Linked DNA regions of Homo sapiens. The protein of the gene in region 2 purifies or fractionates together with the protein of the main gene of each other region. This does not show direct contact. Each region holds a gene or a part of one and is shown on either strand. Other genes may lie near its edges.

What was found.
Region 1: the proteins of CSNK1G1 (region 2) and GNG12 purify together in Homo sapiens (affinity purification with mass spectrometry; one large-scale study listed by BioGRID and IntAct). This does not show direct contact.
Region 3: the proteins of CSNK1G1 (region 2) and DSG2 purify together in Homo sapiens (affinity purification with mass spectrometry; one large-scale study listed by BioGRID and IntAct). This does not show direct contact.
Region 4: the proteins of CSNK1G1 (region 2) and AMMECR1 purify together in Homo sapiens (co-immunoprecipitation; one study listed by IntAct). This does not show direct contact.

Annotation. Positions count from the first base shown.
Region 1 is NC_000001.11:67,703,026-67,708,955, reverse strand, and holds part of GNG12 (guanine nucleotide-binding protein G(I)/G(S)/G(O) subunit gamma-12), read left to right. Parts: intron 1-1,243; 5' UTR 1,244-1,269; coding exon 1,270-1,362; intron 1,363-3,379; coding exon 3,380-3,505; 3' UTR 3,506-5,930. UniProt on the Homo sapiens protein: Guanine nucleotide-binding proteins (G proteins) are involved as a modulator or transducer in various transmembrane signaling systems.
Region 2 is NC_000015.10:64,201,441-64,207,370, reverse strand, and holds part of CSNK1G1 (casein kinase I isoform gamma-1), read left to right. Parts: intron 1-2,421; coding exon 2,422-2,506; intron 2,507-2,781; coding exon 2,782-2,930; intron 2,931-4,181; coding exon 4,182-4,289; intron 4,290-5,930.
Region 3 is NC_000018.10:31,534,812-31,540,741, forward strand, and holds part of DSG2 (desmoglein-2 preproprotein), read left to right. Parts: intron 1-458; coding exon 459-601; intron 602-1,390; coding exon 1,391-1,618; intron 1,619-3,939; coding exon 3,940-4,167; intron 4,168-5,930.
Region 4 is NC_000023.11:110,194,381-110,200,310, reverse strand, and holds part of AMMECR1 (nuclear protein AMMECR1), read left to right. Parts: intron 1-1,676; coding exon 1,677-1,791; 3' UTR 1,792-5,930.

The DNA.
Region 1 (5,930 bases), on a different chromosome or scaffold from region 2:
GGGTTGCTAGTGTTTTTTTGCAGCTTTGTCTGGTCTCGGCCTTTATGGCAGAATTACATTATTCAGCTGTAGCCTCTCCAAAAGGTTGAGTCAGCCTGGGTTTGCTGCTGGCGCCACGGAGCCCTAAGACTTTGCTGAGCCCTCACATAGCGCCGGGGAGGCACACCTACTGTCCACCTGCTCCCATGAGTCATAAAACTGCCACACTGCTACCAGGCCTGCCAGCCCTGCGTTTTCCTTCAGTTGCCACCCTGATGAGAATGAACTTAGCCATATAGGTCAGGGCACCAGGCAACACTTTTCCCCCAGCCTGCCTTCCTCTTGAAATGTGCTATTGGACAACCAGTTTGTAAAGCAAGGGCCAGGATGTTTCTGTTTCCATTGCTTTACACCAGGTGGCTAAGGAGAGAGGGCAGCAGGGCAGCCTAGAGGCCAACAGCTCAGGCTAGAGAGGAGAATCAATCCACGAACATATGATGGAGTAATAGGATTAGCAAGTGCCCAGACCATCACGATGAGACCAGGGAGAGGTCAAAGGAGGGAATAATAACGTTTTATTAATTATTTCAGACTGTAGGCTACTCATATATCCCACCTGACATTTACAGTGGATCTATCACGGAGAGTCTCCACTGAAAGTTTTCACTCTTTCATGAATAAAGACTTCCTTATGTGCCTAACACTTTCAAAACGATTCCACATCATGATAGTGTCTAAAAATAAGCACCCTTTATTCAAAGTTCTCTAGAGGAGCTCTCTTCTCATTTTCTGTTGCCAAGTCTTTGATCAGCCTAATAGTTGGGGGCAAGAGCCCAAAAGAAATGAAATCAAACCTTCTGTGAAAGTAGGTAGCAGTAATATTAAACTGACATGTAATATGCCTCCCATAGCAAATGCTCACTTTTGCCACAGGTCCCCTAAGTGCTACAAGTGTTTGCGTATTTGTTTCCTCTTAGGAAATCCTAGAAAAGTCTAGTTTTGTGTTATATGTTGGGGTGCATCGATTAAACTGCTAGTGCTGGGTTTCTGCAAACTAAAGATTTATGTAGGTGCTCAAATGGATGACAAACTTAGATACCTAGGTCACCACTCGAATTTCTAAGGGGTGTTTTAGTAACTGCCTCCAAGAAGCTGTGATGACTAGGAAAATCCATCTATTTCCCTTTAAGTAGAACATATTATTATGAATGTTTAAATAACTTAAAGATGCCTGTTACTTGTCTTTAAAAAAAATTCTCCTCAGATTTCAGGTAAAAACAATAATTGAAGATGTCCAGCAAAACAGCAAGCACCAACAATATAGCCCAGGCAAGGAGAACTGTGCAGCAGTTAAGATTAGAAGCCTCCATTGAAAGAATAAAGGTAAGAAGCCCCGACTGGATAACATATGCTTTCTGCTCAGTTCCCCCTGTTCCTTGTGGCTGGACCACTTGTCAGAGAAGATAATACCATTTCATTCCGCTTGCTTCCAGGATTTTTCCAGAACAGGCTGAGAGTCTCAAAATCCTAACTTTCATTTTCCTATATAGCATGGGCCTCACTTCAAAAGTGTCTGCATTAGCCTCTCTGTTTGTAAAACTCTGGACAGGATTTCCTAAGGACCTGTCTCCCCTGAATGAACATGGTCAAGTCCGTTGATCCCTGTGTTCTAAAGTGGGACAGGGGTTCCAAGTAGACTTCATAAACACCCTAGTCATTCCTTTGGAATTTAAGTGTTCTAGAATTATCAGTGCAGCTGAGGCAGCTTCACGTAAGAAGTCAGCAGTCTAGGTTTCCTTTTTAGGGAAATGAAGCTTTTAAATGTGTTTGGCCCTCAGTGACCACTTTCTGTGCCCAGAGTAATAATGCGAGCTTTAGTTGAGATCCCATAGAGAAACTGGAATGCATTTCTTAGATCACCTGACTTCGAAGTCTTTTCCCCTAAATCCCAAGAGAGAACTAGGCAGTGAGTGCCCTGGAATGTTATGACTAGTTCTTCCTTGAAACTGAAGCAGTTGGCCAGGCGCGGTGGCTCACGCCTGTAATCCCAGCACTTTGGGAGGCCGAGGCGGGCAGATCACCTGAGGTTGGGAATTCGAGACCAGCCTGACCAACATGGAGAAACCCCTGTCTCTACTAAAAATACAAAATTAGCCAGGCACGGTGGCGTGCGCACGCCTATAATCCCAGCTACTCGGAAGGCTGAGGCAGGAGAATTGCTTGAATCTAGGAGGCAGAGGTTGCAGTGAACCAAGATCGCGCCATTGCACTCCAGCCTGGGCAACAAGAACAAAACTTCATCTCAAAAAAAAAAAAAAAAGAAAGAAAAGAAAAAAGAAACTGAAGCAATCACTTGATCCATTCCTCTGGGCCTGGAGATAGTCACCTGTCTTCCCAGCATGAGGCTATCTGGGCTGTGCTAGACAGGGCTCAGCTGCCCCATTGCTCTTTGCTTAGGGCAAAGAGATCCTATTCTGTAGGATCTCCCTCCCAGACTTCTGAAACAGGGCATGATATTTTCCGTGTTTAATTCATGCGGGAGTAAGGTACTGCCTCTTCCCATGCTGGTTTCGTCTCTCTTTTTACTTCCGCAAGCCCAATCTCTAACAGTAAATCCTGAAGCTCCACAACTTGGCTCCAGAGTTTTGGCTCCGAGCCCATCGTTCAGTTCTTAAAGTGTGTTCTGCATTCCAATCTGTTTTTTTCTGGGTAGAATTTAAGATACAACCTTCCCTTGATTCACATATGCTTTTTCTCACCTGGCCCCTAACTTTTTATTTTGAGACATTTCAAACCTGCTGAAGAGTTGTAACAACAAACATTTATAAACCGTTTACCAGGATTCACCAGTTTTTAACATTTGACCACATGTACTTGCTTGCACTGTCTCTCTCCCTCCTTCTGTCTGTACACACATACACACAAAACATATATAATGTCTTCTTTAAACCCTTGAAAGTTATTTGCAGTTCAGGATTATCTAATAAGAATACCTCACACACAGTCCATTTTTGAAGAATCCAGGCCACTTATTTTGCAGAATCACCCTCACTTCGGGTGTGATCGTTCGCTGATTGGACTCCAGTTCAATGTTGGACAGGAATGCTAGCTCATTAGCTGGCGGTGTGTCCTCAGCACTCCCATGAAGGGATACATGGTGCCAGTTTGTCTGACCATTGTTAAGTTGCTTGGTTAAGAAAGACCTTACCTGCCAAATTGCACCATTTTAAAGGTACCATTTCCTTTTTATACCTGACAAGAATCTGAGAGTGATGCTTTGAGACTCTGATTATCTTGTTCAAATCAGTCTTCCATTCAATAGCCTAGCATTCAAATACGCTCTGAAAGTGTGCAAGTAAAATATTTTCTTTCTTGTTTGTTTGATTTATCTCCATGTCAGGTTTCGAAGGCATCAGCGGACCTCATGTCCTACTGTGAGGAACATGCCAGGAGTGACCCTTTGCTGATAGGAATACCAACTTCAGAAAACCCTTTCAAGGATAAAAAAACTTGCATCATCTTATAGTGGAATAGAGAAACAGCTCCTCGCCTCTTCCCAACAACGCAAATTATGAGCAGCTCCTTGAAGAGATTTACCTTCAGCTTATTTGGTAACCACTGCTAATAACTAAAATGTTCTCAGCTTGGAATAATGGACTCTGAAGTCTCTATTTTCCAAGTTGTCCTTTCTCTTAAAATACCCTTTACTGATTTAATACAGAATAACAATCTTATTTTCCACTTGGTAACTATGGCTTTATGTTGGGTTACTGTTTAAGGAAAGTTGATCTGGGCCTTTTTAAAAACATAATTATATACTTTAGAAATACAAGGGATTCCGATATGTCAGGACCTAAATGGCCTAAGCACCTGTCAAATTAAAATTCCAAAATTCATTGAAATCCTAAAGCCTTGATATTATATTCTTTATAAGGCGTGTGCCAGCCTGTATAGTATATAAGAGAGAGGGGTGTTTGTGTGTATATATATATGCCTTTGTGTATACACTTATCAAAGCTATTTTCTTATGAAAACGTCCCTCTCTCCATACCATCAGTTTCTCAGTTCCAGAAGTTATACCTTTATTTTGAGCTGTGTATAGGTAGAATAAAAAATTCCTTTCATATCGTTATTGTACAAAAAGTAAAGAGTATCCTAAAGATTGTATTCATTGTAATCAAGTAATGCAATCATCTCTCCTCTCTTGAAATCTTGCTGGACCTCTTAGGCTACAATAAACTGTACCAAACTAAACTGACAGTCCTTCGATAATATGAAACATTAATTTACAAGGACCCGTTAGGGCTTCAATGATGCTGAGTCTGGAAAAGGGGAGGAGACCCTTGGGAGGACTCCAGGCAGCTGTGCTCCCAGGGCTCATGTTCTCTACTGGATTAGGGATAGGCACCTCTGAAATCTCCACCCTGATGATTGGAATGAAACGGAGTGAACATGAGCCCAGCTGAGAGAGGAGCAGGAATGTGTGAAAAACAGCTGCTCTCCTTGTCCCAGCTTTGTGATTGAGCCCTCTGTCTTGCTCTCTCTGCCTTCCCTGTGTCTTTCTTCTCTTACCAGAGCATCTGTTTGCAGAGGTAACATTACCTTCCCCAGCCACAGGTATGTGGAATACGGTGAGGAAAAAAAAAATTAAAAAAAAAATGCAAGCTGTCAGGATGCTTAAGCTCTTTTCAGACATCTGCAGTTTCATCCCTACCTTGTTCACATACCATCCAAGAGGCACATAGGCTACCCAAGAGAGCCTTGGATTCAGTGGTACACTCCTTGGGCCCAAGGGCTTTAGCAGCTGGATATGGGGTTCCTTGATTTTCCTCTGGGCCCAAATATAGCCCTCACACTCTTGGAATTTCCAGGTATGGGGGTAGCCCCAAAAGGAGGAATCTCCTATGGCCAATAAGGTATCTTGACTTTATCAAAGTAGAAGAGAGGGTCACTTCGGAGTCAAATCATACACTAGGCCTTTGATGCTTTAATTCTTCTTCAGTTCATTAAAAGTAACTACTAAGGAAAGGTTAAAAACTTCCCCTCAAAAAGGAATCAACCCCAGGAAGTAATTATTTACAACGATTTTCCCAAATTTTGTACAATCTGTCCTGGAAAGCAAACCCCTTTTAAAATCTAATGTCTGGGCTTTGAGTATTAGCTCATTTAGGGTGGACAAATGCATTACTGTTTTCAAACTGCTCACATTTATTCAGTATTTCTCCAAGTTGCTATCTACTCAGCCTTATGAATGCCCCTCGCTTTTCTAAGGCCATGTGAAAATCACGGCACTGCCCTTAGCCTTGTGTCATCTGCTTTTTCGTTCTGCGATATGCCCAGTTCCCAAATCAATTATAGGTACCTGTTTAGGAGAGAGGAAGATTTTACCTCTCAAAGGGTGAGATTTGAAATTTACACTAAAAAGACAACTTTACATTTAATGCTTCACTTAATGAGACATTCTTTTTTTTATAAGTCTATTTTTCTACTCAGTTTCAGAACACTAATCTGATTTTCACTCTGATTTTTAACGTTTCTTTAAATATTTATAATGTAGCTTCTTTCAAAATATTTTCATGAAAAATTACTTTTATTATACCATTATGTGCATGTTATTGGTAGCAGGCATAGTTTATTATTTAGTACTGAAACATGCTCTTTTACCTAACAGTAAACAAGTATGTTTTGATATATATCTGTTAATATGCTTATAGTGGTAAGAAATGGACTTGAGGTCCCAGGAGATTTCATTTTATTCACCCTGGTCAGATACAATAAAGGCTATGAGTATAAATACATAACTTCCTAACCAGGTGTAGGGCATGTTCATGAATATCAAATCTTTTGATGCTGGACCCAAGAGAGGAAAAGTTGTAGCTAAATGTTGATTTACTTATAACTAGACGTCTATGTGAGAAAATATATGTATACATATATATGATATGCAGAAG
Region 2 (5,930 bases):
GGGAGGCTGAGGTGGGAGGATTGCTTGAGTCCAGGAGTTTGAGATCAGCAACATAGTGAGACCCCATCTCTATTTAAACATAAACAAATAAATATTTTTTTAAAACAACACACAAAAAGGATTATTGGCTAATTGGCTCTGGAGATAAGAAGCAGGGACTAATTACATTAGTCTACATTATAAATGCTCTCCTGGGCTTTGGAAACTGTTTTGTTCACATTTGTCTTCCGTTTCTTAATTTTTCCTTGTTCTTGGATTTTCCATGATCTTTTCCCTCATTTCCTCCCAGGCTTGACAGTGCTGCTTTTCTCTCTGTGTTGGTATTCCTCCTCCACTACCATTATGTAGCAGGAGGAGTGTTCCCAGTATGTAAGGGAATTTCTGGAACAAATTGTTGACAACAGCTGCTACACATTTTACCAGAAAGGCCAGCAGGGTGTACTCCTCAGGAAAACTTGGAAAATATTTGTTTATCCTATGTAGGCTAAGAACTCACCTGAACTAAAATGAAAATCCAGGTTTAAGATTGCTTTTCAAGTGTATTATTGAATAAATGCCTATTCAGACAATATCTATTCATTGCAAAATGTGTAGAGTTTAAATAGCCTTCCTTAGGTAGGTGTCAGTACAGTGGTTACATGTCAGTTTACTATTATAATTATGAGCATTATCATTACTCTGTGCCTTTGGCTGTTTGGCTAGGAAATGGTGAGCTTCTAACCCATTGTAAGTCCCATTAGTATCTTGTGAGACTTTTTTTTTTTTTTTTTTTTTTTTTTTTTTTGAGACAGAGTTTCACTCTGTTTCCCAGGCTGGGCTCGCTGCAACCTCCACCTCCCAGGTTCCAGCGGTTCTCCTACCTCAGCCTCTTGAATAGCTGGGATTACAGGTGCATGCCACCACGCCCAGCTAATTTTTTGGTTTTTGTTTTGAGACGGACTCTCGCTTTGTTGCCCAGGCTGGAGTGCAGTGGTGCAATCTCGGCTCACTGCAACCTCCGCCTCCTGGGTTCAAGCAATTCTCCTGCCTCAGCCTCCTGAGTAGCTGGGACTACAGGCACACGCCACCACACCCGGCTAATTTTTGTATTTTTAGTAGAGACGGGGTTTCACCATATTGGCCAGACTGGTCTCAAACTCCTGACCTTGTGATCCGCCTGCCTCGGCCTCCCAAAGTGCTGGGATTACAGGCGTGAGCCACTGCACCCAGCCAATTTTTTGTATTTTTAGTAGAGACGGGGTTTCACCATGTTGGTCAGGCTGGTCTCGAGCTCCTGACCTCAAGTGATCACCCATCTAGGTCTCCCAGAGTGCTAGGATTACAGGCATGAGCCATCGCGCCTGGCCCAAGACATATTTTTTGGTTGTAATTTATTTCAACATATTAATATGGAAAGAAACTTAATCAGTAGTTTGGGGTACTCCTACACCCCCTCTTCCAGAAAGGCAGGATGGTTCATTTTGCTGTAGGCTTTCTAGACTATTGTCCTAAAACGTAAGACTTCCACCCATTCCCTTTGAGATTTTATTTCTTCACTCTTAAATTCCTCTCCTGTCATATACATCTTCTCATTGATTTTTATAGCTTTCAAATAGAGTTTCATGTCAAACTTGGTCATCATACAGCCACACAATGCATTAGTGTATTATTAATTGCTTGAAACTCTCTCGTTGTCCATAAATCATTTTAGTGGTAGTTGTAGATCTAAAATTTCTCCTATTTACTTCAGAACACTATTGCTTAAGTCTGAGTGCAGCAAGCTAGGTAAAGCCTGACAAGAATTCCCTAGGAGCCCACTGTTGATCCAGGGTTCAGAAGCCCTCTGGCTATAGCTCTGAGCATACCAGACTTGGGCTGCTTTTGAGTTACTGACATACACCAAACCTGTTAGCCATGGCTGTACCATAGACAACTTTTTTCCCTCTGGAAGCACATTGTTGAAAGACATTTTTCAGTTATTGTTTTTTTTCTGTTCAAAGTCTCAATATATGTGTAGTAGAATTACTTATCTGTTTCCCCCACCTGGATTAGCAGTACTTTTAGAGCTGATCTAAGAGAGAATGCTGAATCATATTGAATTATGGTGGCCATGGGATATTACTAAGCTTCTGCAATTTTGAAAATATTGGCCACATAATATTGTTATTTTCTTATCCTAGCCACTCATCCATTATATTTGATGGTGTTTATCTGAGACAACTAAATATTTTCACAAGTAAAATTTTCCAGAACACAGCAGATGTTTGTATATATCTAAATATATAATTTCTACTACATTTCTTATTTGTTAGTGTTAGAAAAAAAATCAAGACCAACAAATACTGCGAATTTGAGTGAAACAACCATTGTGTCCAAAAACATATTGAATCTCCCATGTTTAGGCCCTCTTTTAAAGTAACTTTCTCTCTTTACTCTCTACAGGCTGACACATTAAAAGAGAGATATCAAAAAATTGGTGACACCAAAAGGAATACTCCCATTGAAGCTCTCTGTGAGAACTTTCCAGGTGGGATGCTAAAAAGACATTCCAGTGTGACTGAGCTTTGAAACTAGGTAGAGTCCATGACTGGGTATCTCTAGATAGGGGTGCTGTTTAGGTAATTAACATTTCCTTTTGTGATACAGACCAAAGTAGGTTTTATCACTTTTATTTTGTCAGTAAAGAAAACATCAGTGTCAAATTGTCTGTATAAATAACCCCTTTGTGGCCCAATGCTTCCCCACAACTGCTATGGAAAGCATTCAGCTAATGAGCAGGGCCTTTCATCTCTTTCCTAACAGAGGAGATGGCAACCTACCTTCGATATGTCAGGCGACTGGACTTCTTTGAAAAACCTGATTATGAGTATTTACGGACCCTCTTCACAGACCTCTTTGAAAAGAAAGGCTACACCTTTGACTATGCCTATGATTGGGTTGGGAGACCTATTGTAAGTATCCTTTTTTTTTTTTTTTTTTAACCTCATTACCTCCTTTCTCCAACCAGCACTGCCTCATGCCTTTACTTGCCAGTCTTTCTGCTTGAATCTTTGGTAAAAATATTCCTTTGATCGTAGACTGTATATTTACTAGCCTTGTCTGGGTGTTGCCATAGGTTGCTCTTACTAGTTCAGAAGTAGGAAGTATTTTTTCCTAGTAATATAGGAAGATAATAACTTGTGTGTCCTAAGATAACAGAATTTAAGCCCAGTTTTTAGGAGAAGTTTCATTTGAATGATTCAGAAGTTTGTTTGTTTGTTTGTTTGTTTTCCCAGGCTGGAGTGCAATGGCGCCAATCTCGGCTCACTGCAACCTCCGCCTCCTGAGTTCAAGCGATTCTCCTGCCTCAGCCTCCCAAGTAGCTAGGATTGTAGGCACACACCACCACGCCCGGCTAATTTTTATATTTTTAGCAGAGACGGGGTTTTGCCATGTTGGCCAGGCTGATCTCAAACTCCTGACCTGAGGTGATCTGCCCTCCTTGGCCTCCGAAAGTGCTGGGATTACAGGCGTGAGCCACCACACCTGGCCCCATGATTCAGAAGTTGATGCCACATACGCTGTTAATGTACTTGACCTTTGTAGCAGTGGAACCCAGCATCATAGGAAGCTTTTGAATTTGTTGTTCTGGTCAGGGGTTCACAGGGCCAAACAGATATCAGTGGAGGAAATTTTTTTTTTTTTTTTTTTTTTTTTTACGGAGTTTCACTCTTGTTGCCCAGGCTGGAGTGCAATGGTGTGAACTCAGCTCACCGCAACCTCCGCCTCCCAGGTTCAAGCGATTCTCCTGCCTCAGCATCCCGAGTAGCTGGGATCACAGGCACGCGCTGCCACACCTGACTAATTTTGTATTTTTAGTAGAGATGGGATTTCTCCATGTTGCTCAGTCTGGTCTCGAACTCCTGACCTCAGGTGATCCACTCACCTCGGCCTCCCAAAGTGCTGAGATTACAGGCACGAGCCACCGCGCCCGGCCCTGGTTTTTTGTTTTCGAAGGTAAGCTACTCTCCAATGAACTATTAAGGACCAGGCTGCCTCCCTTTTGCAGATGAGCAAACTGAGAAGACAAGACAACTTGAAAGTGCTCTTGGTAGCTGAAAATAATTACTACTACTCTATTAGAATTAGAATCATTCTGTCCTTTGCATATGCATCAAGTTGGACCTGTTTCCCCCATTTGACTTTTTGTTTCATTTTTCTAGCCTACTCCAGTAGGGTCAGTTCACGTAGATTCTGGTGCATCTGCAATAACTCGAGAAAGCCACACACATAGGGATCGGCCATCACAACAGCAGCCTCTTCGAAATCAGGTATGTGTTGATCCTCCATTCTTTCAGACACTACCCTTCTTCTTGGCTAATATTAAAACCCAAATTCTTCAGCTTCTCCGCTTTAGTGTATGTACTGAAAATAAAGATCAAATGCTTGCCATTTCTTACAGGTGTGGTATGACTTTCAAGCAACCCTCAGGGCATGTATAGTTGCACTGAGATGTGGCCAGGTGCCCTATATGAAGCATCCAGTCTAAAGAGTCAGCCTGGCCAAGTGCAGTGGCTCATGCCTGTAATCCAAGCACTTTGGGAGGCCAAGGCAGGTAGATCACTTGAGCCAGGAGTTCAAGACCAGCCTGGGCAAGATGGTGAAACCCTGTCTCTACATAAAATACAAAAAATTAGTTGGGCATGGTGGCACGTGCCTATAGTCCCAGCTACTTTGGAGGCTGAGGTGGGAGAATCACCTGAGCCCGGGAAGTCAAGGCAGCAGAGAGCCAAGATTGCTTCCGCATTTGCACTCCAGCCTGAGTGATAGAGTGAGACCCTGTCTTAAAAAAAAAAAAAAAAAAGTGTGTGGGCCTGTCAGAGTCTGTTGGCTGTTGGGGGGAACTAGCTATAAGTTAGGATCAGAGGCATCTACCATAGGACCAAAAGACCTGTTGGAGGCTACTCTGGGCACAGTGCCTGTGGAGTAGCCCTACTCGCCAAGGAGCAGTTTAAAAAAAAAAAGACCTGTCGCACAGACAGGATGTACCAGGTAGCCCACTTTGGGTCTCATCTGTAGTCTGGTCTAGAGCTCTTGCCAGTTCTGGTTTTTCCTTGCTGGTTAAGAATGGTAGGTACTTTGGACTTCCAACTGACTTGGGCATGAAATGGAACCTCCACACCACCCCTTGTTCTTCTACCCGGGCAAATTATAGAGCTGGTCAAGATTTGAGATGGACCTGCAGTGAAGACTCAGCTTAGGCGATGTCATCTGTCCTTCATTGTTCGTTGTTTGGAAAACTAGTGGTCTCAGTGAGGGACATCTCTCAGCCTAAAGACAGATAAGGCAAACACACACCAAAAAATCAACAAGTTTGACATTTTTAAAAAGGGCTTATGTATTTGGGAAGTAAATATGACATAGGATTTTTATCTTTATATTAAATATATTGCTAAGAGAAAAACAGAGACCACAGTAGGTAAATAAGCAAAGCATAATAAACAGATTACATATTTTTAAAATAATTATCACATATCAAATTAGCTTATTTCCTCTCCTTATGATTTCACTTTCTTGTATTAACATTTTTACAAGAAAATACAAAAACATTTATTTCATAGATGCACATGTGCAAGTATATAGGTTAAGAATAGTATATAAACACACACACACACACACACACACACACACACACACACACACACATGTCCAATGGAGTACACCCACAAATATATTTTCTCACCAGTAAGTATATACTCTTGGCAAAATATGTGGTTTGGTGGGTAAGAAAAAAGTATGTAAAAGGAGGAAAGCCATTTACTAGAGAGTACATATAAACGAGAAAATAGGTGGGCAAAAAAGAAAGGGTTAAGCAAACTCTGGGCACTAATTGGGTCCATAGTCACATCCTTTAAAGTCGTTGTTTAAGATTTATAATTTGACTGACTTCTGGTTTGACAACAAAAGACTGT
Region 3 (5,930 bases), on a different chromosome or scaffold from region 2:
TGCGATCATTGATTTTTAAAGTTGATGTTTGTAAATGTTGCTAACGCCCCCAATAAACAACAGAACATAAGACTGCTCTTCTCCACCAGTGCTTATTGTATAACTAAGTTATTCCCCAAAAGTTTAACCCAACTTTAAGGGACACTAAATCAAATGCCATAGGACAGACTGCAGAGCAACTTAAAAACTTGAGTTAGTGGTTAGTGGGCTCAAGAGAATCACCCTTAATTTTATGTCTTGGGTATGTTGCAGGAATAAGAAAGGTCCAATTTAAGTGTGACATGCAGTAAAGAGAGGGGCTTTTAGGATGGTTTTGCAAAATTAAAAACATTCAAAACAAATGCCTGTAATAAGAACATATTTAAAGAGAAGAAAAGTAAGCTTGAAAGAGCTGTAGATGTTAGAGGTTTCCAATTCATGCAGAATTCAAAATTAATTTTATGTTTGTTTTATGACAGATATGTAAAATTAGAAGATAGAGATAATTGGATCTCTGTGGATTCTGTCACATCTGAAATTAAACTTGCAAAACTTCCTGATTTTGAATCTAGATATGTTCAAAATGGCACATACACTGTAAAGATTGTGGCCATATCAGAAGGTAAGTTATTAAATAGATCTTTTTCTTGATTATATGTATTTAGATTTTTATTTTCCAACATCAGAAACCATTGATTTGATTGTGTATAAAAACCTAATCTCGGCCGGGAGCAGTGGCTCATGCCTGTAATCCCAGCACTTTGGGAGGCCAAGGCAGGTGGATCACGAGGTCAAGAGATCGAGACCATTCTGGCCAACATGGTGAAACCCCGTCTCTACTAAAAATACAAAAATTAGCTGGGCATGGTGGCATGCATCTGTAGTCCCAGCTACTCAAGAGACTGAGGCAGGAGAATTGCTTGAACCCAGGAGGTAGAGGAGCGGAGATCGCGCCAGACAAAGGGAGACTCCAACTCAAAAAAAAAAAAACAAAAACAAAAACCTAATCTCACCCCAGCACAGTTGCTTGTGTCTGTAGTCCCAGCTACTCAGGCAACTGAGATGGTTGGAACACTTGAGCCCAGGAGTTTGAGACCAGCCTGGACAAAAAAGCAAGACACCATCTTCAAAAAAAAATTGAGGGGTAGATAAAATTTAAAAATAGATGTCTAAAAAAATTTTTTAGTAAGATGAAATAAGCACCTAATTTCTCCAGTAGATAAATCTCACATTTCTACTTGGTAAGTGGATTAAAAGATATTACTTGGTCCAAATTTGAAACATATCTAGGATAGAAAATGTCCTAAGTGGTTAGTACCTTCTCCACTCCAAATTGGCAAGGGAATTCAAACTATGTCTGTTGTCAGCAATAGGAACAGAATGTACATACTTTTTCTCTCTTATTTTTAAGATTATCCTAGAAAAACCATCACTGGCACAGTCCTTATCAATGTTGAAGACATCAACGACAACTGTCCCACACTGATAGAGCCTGTGCAGACAATCTGTCACGATGCAGAGTATGTGAATGTTACTGCAGAGGACCTGGATGGACACCCAAACAGTGGCCCTTTCAGTTTCTCCGTCATTGACAAACCACCTGGCATGGCAGAAAAATGGAAAATAGCACGCCAAGAAAGTAAGCAAAATCACTGGACTACATAGAAATCTAAATATTAAGCATGATATCTAAAATATTTGTAAGTTGTATTTCTTCTCATAAATTATATTTCCAATATAGTTTTTTAAAGGAGTTTATGAAATGAGGTCCTGAACCTACTGACATATAGTATCTTTTATATGCTTATGGAGAGAAGAAAAATAATCTAAAATGTCTTGAAGGTAGCTGGGTATTCCCTAAATAGCCCTTGAAGTAGTTTTGTCTGGTAAGGTGAGGAGTACCAAGCCTTTGTCAGCACCACAATCGTAGTAGTTTGCCTTCTAAAAATCTTGTAGTAACAGTAATTCCATTTAAAACAACATTTATTGAGCACTTGCTATGTGCTAGGCATTCTGCTAGCCCACCCTATGTATTACCATATTTAATCCTTCCTTCAACATTATTCCCTGATTAAAGCTGAGGATACCTTGGTTTAACTGGGGGTAAGTAAAGCTCAAACCTAGAACATGATAGAAACAACATAACAGGGGAGTTATCTGATTCCCCCCTTCCCCATGTCAGTGGACATGTCCATATGTCCACATCCAGGACATCTAGACACATGGACCATATGATGTGTTGATGTGAGTTTTCAGATGTCCTTCAGGGTGGTTCTGAATGCAGAAAAGTCTATCCAGAAAACTATTTTGTTTTAAACAACTAGGGTTCATTTCAGTAAAATTTCAAAGACAATAGTCAGTTTTTTTTTTAATTTACAGCTTTATTGTGTTAAGTCTAGCAAATGTTTGAAATCATTTTAAGAGGGTTTGAATAATGTTTAGTCCAATTAACAAATTAAACACCATCAATATTTCAAACTGTATTTACAGATTTAATATATTTAGTTTCCTTATATATTTCAGTGATCTGAATTAACAAAACCTCCCAGCCAGGTGCGGTGGCTCACGCCTGTAATCCCAGCACTTTGGGAGGCCAAGGCAGGCGGATCATGAGGTCAGGAGATCGAGACCATCCTGGCTAACACGGTGAAACCCCGTCTCTACTAAAAATACAAAAAATTAGCCGGGCGTGGTGGCAGGCACCTGTAGTCCCAGCTACTCGGGAGGCTGAGGCAGGAGAATGGCATGAACCCAGAAGGCAGAGCTTGCAGTGAGCCGAGATTGTGCCACTGCACTCCAGCCTGGGTGACAGAGCAAGACTCTGTCTCAAAAAAAAAACTCCCTATGATCCTTATACTCTAAAATTCTAATAAATTTAACTTACAAATACACTGAGTTGTATATTACAGAATATTATCAATAACAAGTTGAAGCCGGGCATGGTAGCTCATGCCTTAATCCTAGCACTTTGGGAGGGTGAGGCGGGTGGATCACTTGAGGTCAGGAGTTTGAGACCAGCCTGGCCAACATGGTGAAACTCCATCTCTACTATAAATACAAAAATTAGCTGGGCATGGTGGTGGGCACCTGTAATCCCAGCTACTCAGGAGGCTGAGGCAGGTGAACCTGGGAGGCAGAGGTTGCAGTGAGCCAAGATGGCAGCACAGCACTCCAGCCTGGGCAACAGAACGAGACTCCATTTCAAAAAATAAGAAGAAGAAGAAGAAGTGTAAGAGTGCTAATGTTCCTTGATCTTAGAAGGTGCATGCTGAAGAATGTCGTGCTATCTGTAACTTACCTTGAAATAGTTAAGAAACTTTAAAAAAAAGAAAAAGTGGGTATATAGAGGGCAAAGAAAGCATTGTTGCAAAATGTAAACAGTTAGTAAGGGTTTGTTAATATTCACTAAAATATTCTTTCAACTTTTCTGTAGGTTTGAATTTTTTTTCCATTTTGAATGTATATAGTGTTGAGAACAAAAAAAGAAGGGACTAGAGAAAACAAGATCAGCCCATCATTGAAAATGATTAACGCTGAGGATGGGTACCATGGGGGTTATGCTCTTCTCTTTATTACTATGTTTGAAAAATTGCCTTAATGAAGTTTTTTTTTAAAGAAATGGTAAAATAAAGGTCATTCAGTAGAAATGTTAACTCACCACTTGTTTGTCACTGTATTCCCAGTGTATAGAACAGTTCCTAGCTTTCCTAGACCCACACACATTGGTTACAGCTAATCATCATGAAAGTAGGTGTCCAGGTCTGAACCTTTGCTATTTAAACTGCATATTCAGGGCCTATAGACAAATTTTAATGAGCACACTTCAATAAGTGAAGGAAGAACAAAGTACCTAATTGGAGTTAAATACAATCAGCAATGAAAGAACATTTGTGGAATTTAATGTTGCCTCATCCTTGGTAATCGTTCGTTTTTATTTCCTTCTGCCTCCCAACCTTGTAGGTACCAGTGTGCTGCTGCAACAAAGTGAGAAAAAGCTTGGGAGAAGTGAAATTCAGTTCCTGATTTCAGACAATCAGGGTTTTAGTTGTCCTGAAAAGCAGGTCCTTACACTCACAGTTTGTGAGTGTCTGCATGGCAGCGGCTGCAGGGAAGCACAGCATGACTCCTATGTGGGCCTGGGACCCGCAGCAATTGCGCTCATGATTTTGGCCTTTCTGCTCCTGCTATGTAAGTCTTTAAAAGCCACTCTGTTGTGCTTTTGGGAATCTGAGTGCACTCCTGGAGATGTGTTACTATGGTAGTCATTGATTTCTTCACAGTTATTCTTTAACCACACTAGAGCACTTTGAGGGTGAATAGGGAAACAACTGATGATTGGCAAATCACCAAAGCATAATATAAGACTCTTCAGAATTTTGTTTTATAAATGTATATCCTTTTCTGGTTTCAGTAACTTAGGAACTATTGGCATAAACTTCACTGGTATTCCCATTTTGATGAGCTCTGTGAGGGCAGCATGCTGTCTGTTCTCTTCACTGCTGTATTCCCAGTGTGTGGAACAGAGCCTTGCATGTAGTAAGCGCTCAAAAAAGATGTGTTGCATGACTTTGGGTTATGGGCACAAGGTTTTTTACAAACCCAGTTTATTCCAATCAATCCTGCTTTGTACATTCAACTTATCAGAGCTCCGCCTCCCTGATATTCCCCGCTTGCCTTGTTTCTTCGTCAGCACCAAAAGTAGGCAGACCCTCTGAGCACTTCCTGTCCTTCCTGACCGTAAGATGTTCTCAACCAGTCCTGCCTGCCCTACCCACGCTCCAAAGACCTCGGGTTTCCTTTTATAAAAGAACAAGGGACTGCATCCTGAGGTCACATGAAATATCACTCTACTTGACCACTGAATATGGACAGAGGGCCGCCTCCAAGGCAGCCTAGGCTAGTGCAGTGACAGAGGAGAGGTCTGTTAGACAAGGGGTCCCCAACCCCCAGGCTACAGACCAGCACCTGTCCATGGCCTGTTAGGAACCAGGCCGCACAGCAGGAGGTGAGTGGTGGAAGAGTGAGTGAAGCTTCATCTGTATTTACAGCCACTCCCCATCACTCGTGTTACCACCTGAGCTCTACCTCCTGTTAGACCAGTGCTGGCATTCGATTCTTATAGGAGCTCAAACTCTATCGTGAACTACTCATGCCAAGAGATCCAGGTTGCGTGCTCCTTATGAGAATCTAATGCCTGATGACCTGTCACTGTCTCCCATCACCCCCAGATGGGACCATCTAGTTGCAGAAAAATAAGTTCAGGGCTCCCACTGATTCTACATTATGGTGAGTTGTATAATTATTTCATTATATATTACAATGTAATAATAATAGAAATAAAGTACACAATAAATGTAATGCACTTGAGTCATCCCAAAACCAACCCCCCTACCCCTAACTTCCCTGTGGAAAAACTGTCTTCCATGAAACCAGTCCCTGGTGTCAAAAAGGTTGGGGACTGCTGTATTAGAGCCATTGGTAGATGTGCAATTGAAAGCACAGCACTCAACAGTCTGCAGTGTACTTTTATACCATCATCTCCATGCTATGGCTACATATACAGATACATAACGGTAAATGACTTGTCTCAGCTTACCAAGTTTGTAGGTAGGTACTGGAGCTGGGACTGTATCTTTTGCTCAGGGATTCCTTGCACTGCTTTCTCATCTCAGATTCCCTGGAGCCTAATGTGGTACTTGGCACATAATAGACACTTGATGAATGTTTGTTAAAATTGTTGAATTGCCACTGGCTGATTTCAGTCTTCTTATTAATCGTAGTAGCTGTAGTTAATGTGCTGTTGACTGTTTGACATAAAAACGAATCTAGGCAGTAGCCAGTTCATCATTGGAAGCTGCCAAATGGGAGTGGCAGATGGGCATGCAGGTGTGTTTAATTCTTTACTACATTGATCAAGGGGTCAGCCTTGGTCTTTGCTTCCTCCTAGGGGT
Region 4 (5,930 bases), on a different chromosome or scaffold from region 2:
GAGTTCACAGTGGAGGAGAATAGAAGGGGCATGGACAAAATTATTAATCTAAGGCAGAATATGATGGATAATATGAGATCCATTCCCATAAAGTAGGGAAAGAGGAATTCTAAGAGGGTGGGAGGGGGATAACAGATAGTTTCAAAGAGGTCAGCTGGGGGCTGGGTTTGAAGAATGGATAGAATATTTGACAGGTAAAAAGGGATTTTTTTTTGACAGGAGGAAAGTGATTCCCTTAAGGAAGACCTTGTGAGTCAAGGGTGGTGAAGTACAAAGCAAGTTCTGAGAATATGAAATAGTCTGATTGGGCTGGTCTTTTAGTGTAATAGAGAAGCTGATCATTAGAGGAAAATATGGCCCAGAAGGTAGGTTGGGCAGACCATTGAGGGTCCTGAGTTCCAGAGTAATTAGTTTGGACCTGGTTCTATAGGCAATTGGTAGCTATTGAAGGATTTTAATCAGATGGGCTTGGGGAGGTATAAGAATGGAATTGGAAACAGGAAAATGAGCCAGGAAGCGTTGGTATTATCTAAGAATCTGTGGCAGCAGTCCAAAAGAGGTGCAACAGGGGCCTTAACTAGAGCTGTGGCAGTGAGATGGGAAGAAAGGTTGGGATCGATATGAAAATAATGTGGAAGAAATGAAAGGACTGGGTCATCATTTAGAAATAAAGAAGAAAGTCAAGGCGTTAATCTAGATAAAAGGGACCAAGGTAATCCCTTTAATCAAAGTAGGGACCACAAGAGGAGTGTGTTAAGTTTATGCATCGATTTTGGATTTGAGGTGCTTCTTAGGATATCTATATAGAAATATCTAGTAGGTCAATGAAAATGTATGAGCTCATGGCTAGATATGATTGAAATTGTAAGGATAGGGTTCACTGTGGGGGGACAGTATAGAGTCAAAATAACTGAATACAGAAACATAACAAAATTCTACAAGGCAGGGATAGGAGCATTCAGAGACAAGGAGCAATCTGAGAGGCAGGGGAGAACCAGGGGCATGTGGAGGTATAGAATCCTTAGCACCAGAGAGCTTAAGGGCATGATGGGCAAATGGAAAGATCAAGCTGAGTCAGGGGAAGCCTTCTGATGGCTATTTCCATGGAAGGGTGGCAGCAGAAGCCAAGGAGCACTGAGCTGAGTAGTAGTGTGAGATGGGGATTGAAGGCAGAAAATACACACAACTATTTGAGAAATGTGGCAATGAAAAGAAAGCCAGACATGGGGAAAAGTGAGAGTTCAGGATACCAGAATTAAGAAAAGTTGTTTTTGTTGTTGTTACTTAATGGTAAGACCTAAGTAGATGTGTGGACAGAGAAAGGAACAGTAAAAGAGGGAGAGGTGGAAGATTTCTGAAGAAAAATAATCAACTGAATCGAATGAGATGCATACTCCTGTTAGAAAACTGGGGCTGAGGGGACAATAAAATTTTTAAAAGAACAATTTAAACAAGGAGTAGTAGAGTGCAAAGAGCACTGGACTCAGACTTTTGATTTCCAAGTTCTGATCTTAGCTTTGCTACTTACTATCTCTGTGACCTTGGGCAGTCACTGCTTCTCTCTGGGACCCCGTTTCCTGATCTATAAAATTATCTTTAAGGTCCTTCCTAGCAGTGACAATGGCATGTCACCTACTTCTCAATGTTAACTTTTCTCTTCCCTGACTTTCTTTCAGGTATCGTAGTGAAAAGATGACCCTGAGCTATGCTGAATACCTTGCTCATCGCCAGCATCATCATTTCCAAAATGGCATTGGGCATCCCCTTCCGCCATACAACCATTATTCCTGACACTGAGCCGCACAACCAGTCACTGGGCCTCTCTGCAGACCTCTTCCCAGGAGACCCTACACCTTCTTGGTCTAGCTATCTCTTTTACTGTACCATTTTATGATGATAGTTTCCGTTGCCATGGTGAAGCTTCGACATCGTCAACTAAGATCATCATGGTAACGGGTAGAAAAATGGCATTTGTTAAGATCCTGTTTTATTATTTTAGATCGTTGATTTTTTTTTTGCAGCATATATAATTTTGGGTTTTTTTTTCCTTATAATATTATGTAGAATTTTGCTTTGCTGTCTCAGTCAGGTTTCTGTTTTTCTGTCCTCCTTGCCTTTCTTCCCGTTTTGCTTCCTGTTTTCCTTCTTCCTTCCCGTTTTCCTTCTTCCTTCCCTGCCTCCCTTCCTTTGACTGTGGATGGAAGAAAGTGTGCAGTTTTTAGGGATTTTACTTAGGTTCGTCTTTAGTTTTCCTCAGTAAGATAGTTGTTTTTTGATACCTGAGTTTGGGATTAATTCATATCAAATTCAGGTATTTGTATATTACTCTTGATTTTTGTCTGAAATTCACTTTGCTATGACAGCCTAGTAGTTGGGTCTTCACTCCTTAAGTATATGTTTTTCCCATGGTGAAAATACATGAACTTTAGTTCTAGTAGTGAGCATTCAAAGGTCCGTGATAGGGCTTGTCACAGAGAGAGAGAAATCATTTATCCCTATTGTGCTGGTTATCATAGAAGAGACTGCCTCACCACTTTATAGAACCAATTTGCAAACTAAAACACTGTTTGGAGAAGGTACAAACTACCTTTCAAAAAGGCTACAGGAAACATTTTATGAGCAGCAAATATTAGGAAGAGAGCAGATACAGAATTTAGTGCCTTTGAGAAGAATATAATTAAGTGGAATTAAGAGGGGTTAGAAAAAAGGCAATTTAGAAAAATATTCTTGTAAAACTTTATTGTTTCTATATGTGAAACAGAAGATTAGACAAATTCCTTACTCTTAAGTATTTTTTTAAGCTGAAAAAAAATTATTTTGAGCAAATAACCAATAAGAGACATTTGTCTATTTTATATTAATTTAAATTTGTTAGCTCTAGGTTTCAATAAGTCATGATTGGCTAGAATCCATTTTAGCTACCATCTAAAGATATGGTAAAGATAATTTAGTAAAACAAAAGTTCATATTTGCCATGATTTCAGATATGTTTGTCATGGGGACAATATTAGAGTTTTAGAGATACTATAAAATAGCTTGAATTTCTTTCTGCACTACATACTTTTGATAGAAACACATTTACTACATTGATAAGATGTTATGTCACACCTGTGAAAATGGAGTTGGCATTCAGATATGCTATAGTTAGAGCCCAGCTCATCTGCAAGTATAGTCTTCCCATGATGCATACAAAGATAACTTACTGATGTCGATAGGAGGTCCATACATATATCCCCAGGAAAAATGACAGATTATTCTGGAGGAAGATGACCTTCATTTTATGGTTATGTGTGTGTGTCTGTGTGTCTTTGGAAAAATATATATAATTTTTTCAAATAGGAAGCCAACATATCAAGTGATGAATTAAAGTATGCTGCAGAATATATATTCTAAAACTACAAAAAAGTCACTGAATATCAAAATGATACAGCTTATACATATAGTTACTGTGACAAGTGACAGACTGCTAGTTCAGAATTCAAAAATCCTTTCCTAGTTTGTGAGATAATGGGCTAAATTCCTTCTGCCTGCCACTGGGGCAAAGCAAATTGCTTTAGTTTTTGATGAGAGTTCTTAGAAGTTTGTTGGTATTCCTTCATCCACAGCATCCATTGTTGAAATAACCATTTTCAGTTGTGATGCCTTAACTAAGAAGCCAATTGTTAGCCTGAAATGCAATCTTGGTAGCCAGTTTCAATGAAGCTAGAGATTAGTCAGAAAAAGTTAGCTGTTGGGCTTTAGAAAGGGATTTTGAGTCCTGTCATTTCTACTTGGGAGCATTTTGGAGCAGATTAGTCTTTCAGTATAAAAACAAGTGGCTACCTGATGGAAACTTTTCTTACCCTTATAGGGAAACTGAGCACAAGCTGAATGATATTGTCTGCTGCAAAAAAAAACAAACAAAAAAAAAACAAAACAAAAAACAAAAAAAAGGAAAAAAAGGTAAATAAAACAAGCAAACTGAAGAGAGACAAAATAGACCAATATTATCGTGAAATCCATCTTATCCATCATCTCATCGGTTCAACAGGCTCCTCGTCCTGGGTGAGCTTATGGTTAGAAGTTTTTTTAGCAAAGATTTATTACATACATAGATGTGTGTGTGTACATATACTTACACATACATACATACATATATGTGTGTTTATTTAACGGTGCTAATCAATCTTGAGCAGGTCACGTGACTGGTCATGCGGACTCTAAAATCATATCAGATTTTTTAAAATCCTTGATATATGCAGATGTTATACAGATTTTCTTAGCAGTGTAATAACGTTAAACTGAAGAAATAACCATCCTGCAGGCTTCAAAGGACGAGGTCAGCAATATTTCCCAACATGGCTTGGGGGAAAAGGATAGTTTTGTCTCCTTTTGTATTCAAGTAATGCAAAGTGCATTTTTGTCTCTAAGTAGCTTTTGACTAAAAGACTTTGTAGTGTAAAGGGTGTTATACAAACTGTAATGGTGTGCTTCAAACAAATGCTAGACCCTTTCACCTTTGTCGTATATACAAAGCTGTTAATTATGTGGTATGAATTAACTTTGAACATGTTGAAATATGTAGCATGTCTTTAACTCAGACGAAGATTCTGATTGCACAGGTTGTGTTCTAGCCAGTTGTGATTTATTTGTTCAGAAACACAAATGTGAATTGCACTCTTATCATCAGAATATTGTATGAGTTCAGTGATCTTTAAACAGCTCAGAAGTAATACTTGAACTTCATTTGAGTAGCACAAAGTTTACATAGCCCCTTTTAAATGTTAATTCGTTCCATTTAAGTTTTCCATTTTCAGATGCAACTGGGTATTTTTCCTCTTGGAAATAGTACGTACTTTGCTTTGGTATGTAGCAAAAGGCTTCCATTTCTGGAAGGGTTTTCTTGTTCTTAAACAAGGTCAGCCAGGTACCAGATTCTAAAAGAACAAATTGTCCCCCACCCCTCAAGTGGCCTTCTGACTGCACGAGAATGTGCTACTACCCTCTGTAGTCTCCCCTAACACGAGAGGTCAGTGAAATTGATGGAGGAAGTGCAAGGCTTGCTTCCCCTCACCCTTAAAGCTTAAAGCAGTTGTAAGATTTTCAGTCCAGCACATACAGTCCCAGTGCCCAGCACACCGGAAGTTTGTATACTGGCCTCTTATCTTGTCTTCAAATGTGCAGGAAATTTGAAACTGTCATCTGGAATAGGTTCCATCTCTTATGTGTGTTAGATCAAACCAAAGAAGCCCCCAGCCATGCCCAAATGCTGCTTCAAAAGCCTGCCTTCCAGTCCTTACAAAAACCTTGCAGGATTAAATGTGTTAACTTTTTTATTTTTGTACAGTTTCTAAGTGATTTTTGCTAGTGATGTTAAAATGAATTAAGTTTATTTGAGGGGTGTGAGCACCTCCTCCATTTAAATAAACTGGTGACTTTCCTTTTATTTTTTAAAAGTGGAAACCCGTTGTGTGCCTCTCGATTTAAGGGTTTCTGATGACATTATTCTTAAGACCAGCATTGATCCTTTATATACAAATATATGTTTTCCTTGTTTTTTATTGCTATTTCAGAAGAAAATGAACCTTTTATTTTGCTCTACCCAGTAACTGCGCTGGTACATAGACGCACTGAGCAAACAAACTTTTGTAACCACCTCTGACTACTTTTGTATATCAAAGTTGATTACTTTTGAAATATTTGGATCTAGTTTCTAAGTTATTTTAGTGTTTTATATGTTCCCCAAAATTACTTTGAATCTGTCACCAGCATAATGAGTTCTTGGTGATACAATGGTGAGACTTGTAATGAGCAAAAAGCTACCTGGAGTAGCTCCTCTTTTCCTTCTTTCTTAGTAACCTGTTTTTTGATTACCGTAAGACATCACAGATTACCTGAAACCCCTTCCAGTATAACTAGGCCCTCCTTCCTTCCACATTTAATTGCTTAAT